Regions from separate parts of the Homo sapiens genome. Here all the other regions are linked to region 3. Evidence: fine-mapped expression QTL. A gene starts in region 3. Each other region holds a variant in brackets. All regions are shown on one strand. Distances are between the middles of the regions. Region 1 overlaps SPDYE1 (speedy/RINGO cell cycle regulator family member E1). Region 2 has its middle 2.9 kb from the start of LINC00957. Region 3 holds the start of POLM (DNA polymerase mu).

Evidence for each region. PIP is the estimated chance that this variant, and not a neighbour inherited with it, causes the effect.
Region 1: its variant is the best candidate, but not a certain one, in a credible set for the expression of POLM in Th17 cells (Schmiedel 2018, PIP 0.57).
Region 2: its variant is the best candidate, but not a certain one, in a credible set for the expression of POLM in whole blood (Lepik 2017, PIP 0.63).

Annotation. Positions count from the first base shown.
Region 1 is chr7:44,002,083-44,004,880 of GRCh38, forward strand. SPDYE1 (speedy/RINGO cell cycle regulator family member E1) reads left to right here. Exons shown (of 9, transcript NM_001378423.2): 4 at 508-735; 5 at 1,771-1,829. It also overlaps the pseudogene POLR2J4. Among named protein-coding and RNA genes, the nearest start is that of SPDYE1, 5.6 kb to the left of the region's middle. The variant G/A (reference allele first, on the strand shown) is at 1,123.
Region 2 is chr7:44,034,785-44,037,582 of GRCh38, forward strand. It overlaps the pseudogene RASA4CP. Among named protein-coding and RNA genes, the nearest start is that of LINC00957, 2.9 kb to the right of the region's middle. RefSeq lists an enhancer at 1,600-2,099. The variant C/T (reference allele first, on the strand shown) is at 1,294.
Region 3 is chr7:44,081,512-44,084,156 of GRCh38, forward strand. POLM (DNA polymerase mu) reads right to left here and starts at 1,019. Exons shown (of 11, transcript NM_013284.4): 1 at 740-1,019. The coding sequence starts at 927. RefSeq lists an enhancer at 793-1,293 and a silencer at 1,005-1,584.

The DNA of each region.
Region 1 (2,798 bases), 79 kb before region 3:
AGATCACTTGAGGCCAGGAGTTGGAGACCAGCCTGGCCAACATGGTGAAACCCTGTCTCTTCTAGAAGCACAAAAATGAGCTGGGCGTTCTGGTGGGCACCTGTAATCCCAGCTACTTGGGAGGCTTAGGCAGGAGAATCACTGGAACCCAGGAGGCAGAGGTTGCAGTGAGCCAAGATCGCACCACTACACTCCAGCCTAGGCCACAAAGCAAGACTGTTTCTCAACAACAACAACAAAAAAAAAAAAAAAAAAAAAGGGACTCAGAGAGCCAGGGACCAGGGAAGGATATGAGGAAGTGTTCTGAGGACAGAGAAACGGGAGAATGGGGAGGAGAAGGAGCGGCACATGGAGCTCAGCAGAGGAGACAGACAGAAGGAAAGATGGCTTGGAGAAGCCAGCAGTCTGCGAGGCTGGGGAGGATGGAGAGTGGTTTGGGGTTTTGGGTCGGGCTCTAGTGTGATCAACTGCAGAAGCATTACACCGTGGCCTGGTTTCTTTACTCAGCCCCTGGGGTAGATCCCAGCCCCCCGCATAGGTCCTTTTGCTGGAAAAGGAAGATGGAGTGGTGGGACAAATCTGAGGAGTCGGAGGAGGAGCCACGGAAGGTGCTCGCCCCTGAGCCTGAGGAGATCTGGGTGGCGGAGATGCTGTGTGGCCTCAAGATGAAGCTGAAGCGACGGCGAGTGTCGCTCGTGCTCCCTGAGCACCACGAGGCCTTCAACAGGCTGCTTGGTAGGAGGACACCCCAGAGAGCACCTCCAATCCTGTTCTTTCCAAAAACAGGAAACTTCCAATAACCACACTTTTCCAATGGGAAAAATAGGCCCCAGTGGGTGAGCTCTCCATGTGGGAGGAATGTGAAGTGATCACTCATGAGGGACACTTAGGAGATGATAAAGGATTAGGTCAACTTGATAAAGGTCAGCGCTTGGGATAAGAAAGCTTGGTTTCGGGCCAGGCGCAGTGGCTCCCGCCTGAGATCCCAGCACGTTGGGAGGCTGAGGCAAGAGGATTGCTTGAACTCAGGACTTTGAGGCTGCAGTGAGCTATGACTACACCACTGCACTCCAGCCTGGGTGACAGAGCAAAACCCTGTCTCAAAAGAAAAACCAAGGCTGG[G/A]CACAGTAGCTCATGCATGTAATCCCAGCTACTCGGGAGGCTGAGACAGGAGAATCGCTTAAACCCGGGAGGCAGAGGTTGCAGTGAGCCAAGATCAGGCCACTGCATTCCAGCCTGGCCCACAGAGCAAGACTCTGTCTCAAAATAAATTAATAAATAAATAAAAATAAAAATCAAATAAAGAAAAACAAAATCAATAAACAAAGAAAGTGGTTTCAGCTGTGCCCTCTGAAACTTAATGTCTCTTACTGACTTTTCTAAACCTAAGTGTCTCCATCCATAGTGGGGGATACCAAGGCCATGGTCACACCCTGATGTGTGACTGTCTCATGAGGAAATGATGGGAATTCCTTTATGACTCTGCAGTGGTCCCTCCGTGTCTGCTGGAGGGGGTCCTGGCTGATTCCCAGCTCTACATCCTGTAGATTCTCACACCCAGGGCCTCCTTCGGCCTCTTCTCAGGGGAGTCTCAGAGCAGGAGCCTCTCTCCCTTGCCCAGTGAAAGTCATTCTCCCCTCTCCCATCCACCTCACCCGCGGCCACAATCCTGAGACTTCCCCCCGGGAGGCACACTTCTCCTCGCTGCCCTGCTGCTCCCACGGAAACCCTGTCCTGCTTCTCACACTGACATCTGCTCTCTAATCACAGAGGATCCTGTCATTAAAAGATTCCTGGCCTGGGACAAAGATCTGAGGGTGTCGGACAAGGTAAGGTTGTTCTCCATGTAACTGTTCCTGTTCCAACGCATGGCTGGGGGGAGGGCGCAGCTTCCAAACCCACAGTTCTCCCTCCACCACCTCCCACCAGATGCTCCTACAGTCTTTTTTTTTTTTTTTTTTTTGTGTGTGTGAGACAGAGTCTTGCTCTGTTGCCCAGGCTGGAGGGCAGTGTCTCGATCTTCACTCACTGCAGCCGATGCCTCCTGGGTTCAAGCGATTCTCCTGCCTCAGCCTCCAAGCAGCTGGGATTACAGACATGAACCACCACGCCTGGCTAATTTTTGTGTTTTTAGTAGAAACGGGGTTTTGCCATGTTGGCCAGGTTGGTCCTGAACACCTGACCTCAGGCAATCCACCCACCTTGGCCTCCCAAAGTGCTGAGATTATAGACGTCAGCCACTGTGCCCGACCAGCTCCCATGGTCTTGAGTCTTGGCACCCACAAATTTTTTTTTTGTGAGACAGAATCTAGCTCTGCTCCCCAGGATGGAGTGCAGTGGCATGATCATAGCTCATTGCAGCCTCTAATTCCTGGGCTCAAGCAATCTTCTTTCCTCAGCCTCCTGAGGAGCTGGGACTAGGCACATGCCACCATGCTCAACTAATTTTTGAAATGTTTGTGGAAACAGGGTCTCACTATGTTGCCCAGGTTGTTCTCGAACTGTTGGGCTCACATGATCCTCCTGTCTCCACCTCTCAAAAAGTACTGGGATCACAGGCTTGAGCCGCCACTCCCGGCTATTCTTGGTCTTTTTATGATTTGTCAGCATCTCCCTCAGGATTCTGCTGGTCTCTTGCAGAGTGAATGAGTGGCCCCTGCCTCTCCTATGGGTCCTTTGGGATCTGAGCTCTGGGCCACAGTCTGGCCGCAGCCCTGAAGCTCCTGGCCCCTCTACTCTCAGCTCTTCGGGACAGTTCTCTGCCTGGCACACAAAAGACCCTCCTGACACCAGCCAAC
Region 2 (2,798 bases), 47 kb before region 3:
TTTTTGGTGGCAACAGCTCCACTTGTCCCCACGGAAGGCACCGGGATGGTAGGAGCCCAGGAGGCTGGTGTGGGCTGGATTTCAGCCGCCGCTGGCCCCTTGGCCACGCTCGTAGGTATTCCAGAACCCGCCAAATATATTTGGTGGCCCTGATATCACTACTTTTCCCAGTGGCTCTGGACCCTGACACAAAAGGGAACTCCTAGAGGGAAGGGCACAGAGGGACAGGTCTGTGACTTCCTCCCCACAGGCCAGGACGGTCAAGCCTGGAAGAAACCAACCCCCCTCCAGCTGCAGGCTTCCTACTTGTCCCACATGTCCCTGCCCTAGATACACATCTGGGTCACCCTCCTACAAGGTCCCTGCTCGAATGCCACCCATCAGAGGTCCTCCCTGACCACTCTTTAATTAATTTACTAATTAATTAATTTATTTATTTTGAGATGGAGTCTTGCTCTGTCACCAGGCTGGAGTGCAGTGGCTCGATCTCAGCTCACTGCAACCTCCACCTCTCAGGTTCAAGTGATTCTCCTGCCTCAGCCCCCCAAGTAGCTGGGACTACAGGCACACGCCACCACGCCCAGCTAATTTTTGTATTCTCCCTGACCACTCTTAATAGGACAGACCGCTCCCTGCTATACCCCACTCTCTTCCCTCCCTTGCTCCCTTAGTCCCTTCTGGTTCCCTTCAAGTCACTATCACAATTTGCTTTTTTTTTTTTTTTTAAGAGACAGGGTCTCACTCTGTAGCCCAGGCTGGAGTGCAGTGGTGTGATCATAGTTCACTGCAGCCTCCAACTCCTGGGTTCAGGCTATCTTCCTGCCTCAGCCTCCCAAGTAGCTGGAATCACAGGTGCATGCCATCATGGCTGGCTACTTTTTTTTTTGTAGAGATGGGGTCTTGCTACATTGGCCAGGCTGTTCTCAAACTCCTGGCCTCCAGTGATCCTCCCACCTCAGCCTCCCAAAGTACTGGGACTACAGGCATGAGCCGACATTTGAAACATGTATTTATTGGCCCATCTTCTCCCTGGGATATCAGCTCCATGAGGGCAGGACTCTGCCTCATCTGTCACTGTATCCCCTCACCTAGAATCATGCCTGGAACCTAGGAGGTGCTCAGTAAGTATTTTTTAAATAAATGAATGAATGAGTTAATGAAGGAACAGATGAGAAGGTTACTTGAGAACATGCACCCAGAGCCACACAGAGCATAATGTTTGATTATTAGGCATTGATACAGACACAGAACCACACAGGTGCCAGCTCAGACTTTCTTTTTTAGAGAAAGGGT[C/T]TTGCTCTGTTGCCCCGGCTAGAATGCTGGGATTATCCGCGTGAACCAGCGTGCCTGGCCCCCATCTCAGTTATCTGGAAATAGTTTCCAACAAACGGGTGCAACGTGCAAATTTCACATCACGGGGATGCACCTGTCTGTGCACTGGCCCACACACAGACCTACACATGGATGCCCAGGGAAAGACATGGGCCATGGCCTCCTGGGGGCTCAGGCCCCTGGACAACACACACACACCTGTCCCTGACACCTCCCAGATTAGACACACCCTGCGGTGCCTGATGTAGCTGGTAGCGGGGCGAGAGGCTCAATCAACTCTTTTCTCATCCAGTCCACTCAGGCCCCTCCCACAGCACCCAGGCCACTCCCACAGAGCTCAGGCCACTCCCATAGCACCCAGGCCATTCCCACAGCACCCAGGGCATTCCCATAGCATCCAGGGCACTCCCACAGCACCCAGGCCACTCCCATAGAGCTCAGGCCACTCCCACAGGGCTCATGCCACTCCCACAGTACCCAGGCCACTCCCACAGCACCCAAGCCACTCCCACAGTGTTCAGGCCACTCCCACAGCACCCGCTCCCCTCCCCGCACCTTGCACTGCAGGTAGGCAGTCTGGGGCCTGCCGGCGTCGTCCGTGTAGATGACCTGCATGACGTGCGAGCTGCCAAAGTTCTTTTCCTCAACCTTTTCTGCTGCCCGGATGTTGGCTAACTTGATGAGGGCGCTTTTCTGGGGCAGTCAGGGAGGAGGAGGCTCAGGGACCTAGCCAGGGGCATTCCATTCCCCATCTCTGGGCCTCAGTCTCCCCTTCTGCAGCACCAGGGGTAGGCGTGGGAGACCCAGAGTGACCTCAGCCAGGGCAGAGCACAGACTGATGGTGACCAAGTGCCCAGCAACTGGGAGAGGAGGACCTGGCCTCTCTGGGGGGCACTCCCAGAAGGCCTCGGAGGTGTGAGCTTTGGGGTAGTGTCTGGACAGCCAGCATTCCCTGGGCTACAAAGTCAATCCAGCCGTGGCCAAGGCTTTGTGACTTTGCATTTATTAATTTTCCAACTTGCTTTTGTAGTCCCAAGCTCTAACAGTCATATCCTGACCGGGCGCAGTGGCTCACACATGTAATCCCAGCATTTTGGGAGGCCGAGGAAGGCGGATCACCTGAGGTTGGGAGTTCGAGACCAGCCTGACAAACATGGAGAAACTCCGTGTCTACTAAAAATACAAAATTAGCCGGGCATGGTGGTGCATGCCTGTAATCCCAGCTACTTGGGAGGCTGAGGCAGGAGAATCGCTTGAACCCGGGAGGCGGAGGTTGCGGTGAGCCAAGATCGCACCATTGCACTCTGGCCGGGGCAACAAAAGTGAAACTCCATCTCAAAAAAAAAAAAAAAAATGGGACCAGAATTAAATAATGCCCATGTAGTCAAATCTTTCAACCCTGGCAAGGAAGATGTATAATAATCATCTGAGTGCTTTGGGAGGCTGGGGCAGGAGGATTGCCTGAG
Region 3 (2,645 bases):
TTTGCTCTCTCAACCTCCAAACTAGGGGGCACCCCCAGCTCCCTTACTCTGGGTGTTGTCTCTGTAGCCGCCATTTTTTCTTCTCTTGGTTCCCTTCCTACAAGAGCTTCTCAGTCGTGTTATTTACTCAGGCCTGAGGACAGAGGAGCCTGCGGGCTCCGGGCCTCTTGAGAAGTCAGTCTCGCTCACAGGTGGGACATAGCCCAGGCAGAAGGGCTGTTAGCAAATACGACTTTTTTTTTTTTTTTTTTTGAGACAGAGTCTCACTCTGTCGCCCAGGCTGGAGTGCAGTGGCGCGATCTCGGCTCACTGCAAGCTCCGCCTCCCAGGTTCATGCCATTCTCCTGCCTCAGCCTCCCGAGTAGCTGGGACTACAGGTGCCCGCCACCACCTCCGGTTAATTTTTTGTATTTTTAGTAGAGACGGGGTTTCACCGTGTTAGCCAGGATGGTCTCGATCTCCTGACCTCGTGATCTGCCCGCCTCGGCCTCCCAAAGTGCTGGGATTACAGGCGTGAGCCACCGCGCCCGGCCTACTGCTTATTAATTACCCCTGACCTCTGGTTTTGATTCTCGCAGTGATCCTTTAAAACACGCCTCGCCCTAATTAATAGCACCCTTTACAGAAGAGGAGATGGAGGCTCAGGGAAAGGTCACAAGACCACGAAGTGCCACTGCAAACTTAGAATCCAAAACCAGAAGTGCCATGGAAGCCCTCGCCGCGCCGCGCCGCCCCGCACCTGCAGGCGTCAAGGACGCGGAAGCCTTTGGAGCGCGCCAGGCCTGTGAGGAAGGCCCGGCGGCTGCGACCCATGCGAGGCTCGACCAGGTAGATGGCGACTCCCGGGAAGCGCGTCGAGGGCGGCGTGGAGGAAGCGGCATCGCCGCTAGGGGACCCGACCCGCGCTCGCCGCCGTTTGGGGAGCATTGGGACGACAGCCTCCAGCAGCGCGGAGCGAACGCAGAGGGAAACTCCGAGCGAGACGGAAGGAAGCCCCAGTGAGGCTGACGGAAGCGGGTGGGCGGGCGGGCGGCCGCCGGCTGGAAGAGGACGTGGCCCCGCCCTATGCAAATGAGGCCTCTCCGTGGGGCTCGCTACTTGGGCCAGTCGGAGCGCTGGGGAGGGTCCGGGCTCCTACAGGATTGGGTGTCCCGGCCGCTCCGGAAGACCCGCCTCCATGCAAATAACGGCAGAGGACCCGCCTTTTATTTAAATTAATGTCTCGGAAAGCGCTGTTCGGCCCCATTGGCCTCCGGGAGGAGAGGCTGGGCTGGAGCGGGGCGGGGAGGGTGTTGGAGGGGGTGGAGGAGGCGGGGTCAAGGGGGCGTCCCCGGCTAGGGAGGGTGAACTGGGACCTAGGCCCGGGCGGAGCGGGGTGGGCTGTGTCCTTGGCGCCGGGGCTGGGTCTAGGGTTGAGCCGGCGGCTCGGGGCGGACGCGTGCGGGCTGTGCCCGATCCCTCTGCGCTCGGGACTGTCACACGGAAGCCGGCGGGCGCAGGACCGACACGCGGGTTTCCAATGCGCTGGTGGGGCGGTCGCTTCAAACACGCGGGAAGATTTTTCAGTCGAATGGCATTAGGACAACTGGCAGGCCATTTGGAAAAATAGAAGTTGGTGCCCTTCCTCATTCCTTAACACCAAAATAAATTCCAGATGGGTCAAACATTTCCATCTAAAAAGGAAACCAACAACGTACTGGAAAAAAGTCGGTGAATGTTTTTATGATCTAAATATCACAATAAACTTGGAAACACTAAAGGAAAAGAATGATAAACTGGACTACAGACAAATTTTAAATCTGATTAAAAATTAGAGTCAGAAGATAAACTGGGATAAAGTGTGAGATATTTTGGAATTAAGATTATCTCATGATAATCTTATCAAATTGTCCATAGATAAAAAGACAATAATTTAATAGAAAAATTAGCAAAAAAACTCACGTAGATGATTCTTAGAAGAAATCCTGGTCAATAAATTTATGACCAGAGTGCCCAACCTGTCCAGTCGTTACAGAATACCTAAATGAGAATATCTTCAGTTGTGGGTTTATCAAACATTCAAAAAAATTGACCACACATGTTGAAGGTGCGAGGTAATTGGCAATCCATAGGAAGGACTGTGGAAGCCAATGTGGCAACCACATCCAACAAAATGAAAACAAAATAATACACATTGATCCAGCAATTCCTTTCCCAAGATTGGGATTGCATTGAATCTATAGATCAAGCTGGGGAAATCTGATGTCTTGATAATATCAAGTCTTCTGTCTATCTTATTTAGATATACTCCATTTGTAACCTCTGTTACGGTAGTGTGGCACTGCTCAGCCTAACTGATGGGACACCAGATCAGATGCAACCCCCTTCCACATGCCTCTCCTCATCACTGCCCCATCGTCCTCAGTCTTGAGCCCCAGACTCCTTGAGCACCTATCCTTTTTCTTTGGCTCCTCTCTGACATCTTTAGTGGGCTGGCTCTTCCCCATCTCTGCACTCAGAGCACAGGGCTGAGGGGAGTGGGGGAGATGGCTCAGCCCAGGCATCCTCTTGACCTCCTACACCATCTCCCAGCCTCCTAATTCATCTACCTCTTCAGGGCTGTAGAGCTTCCTGGGCCTCAGGACCCACATACAGAAGCCAGGAGG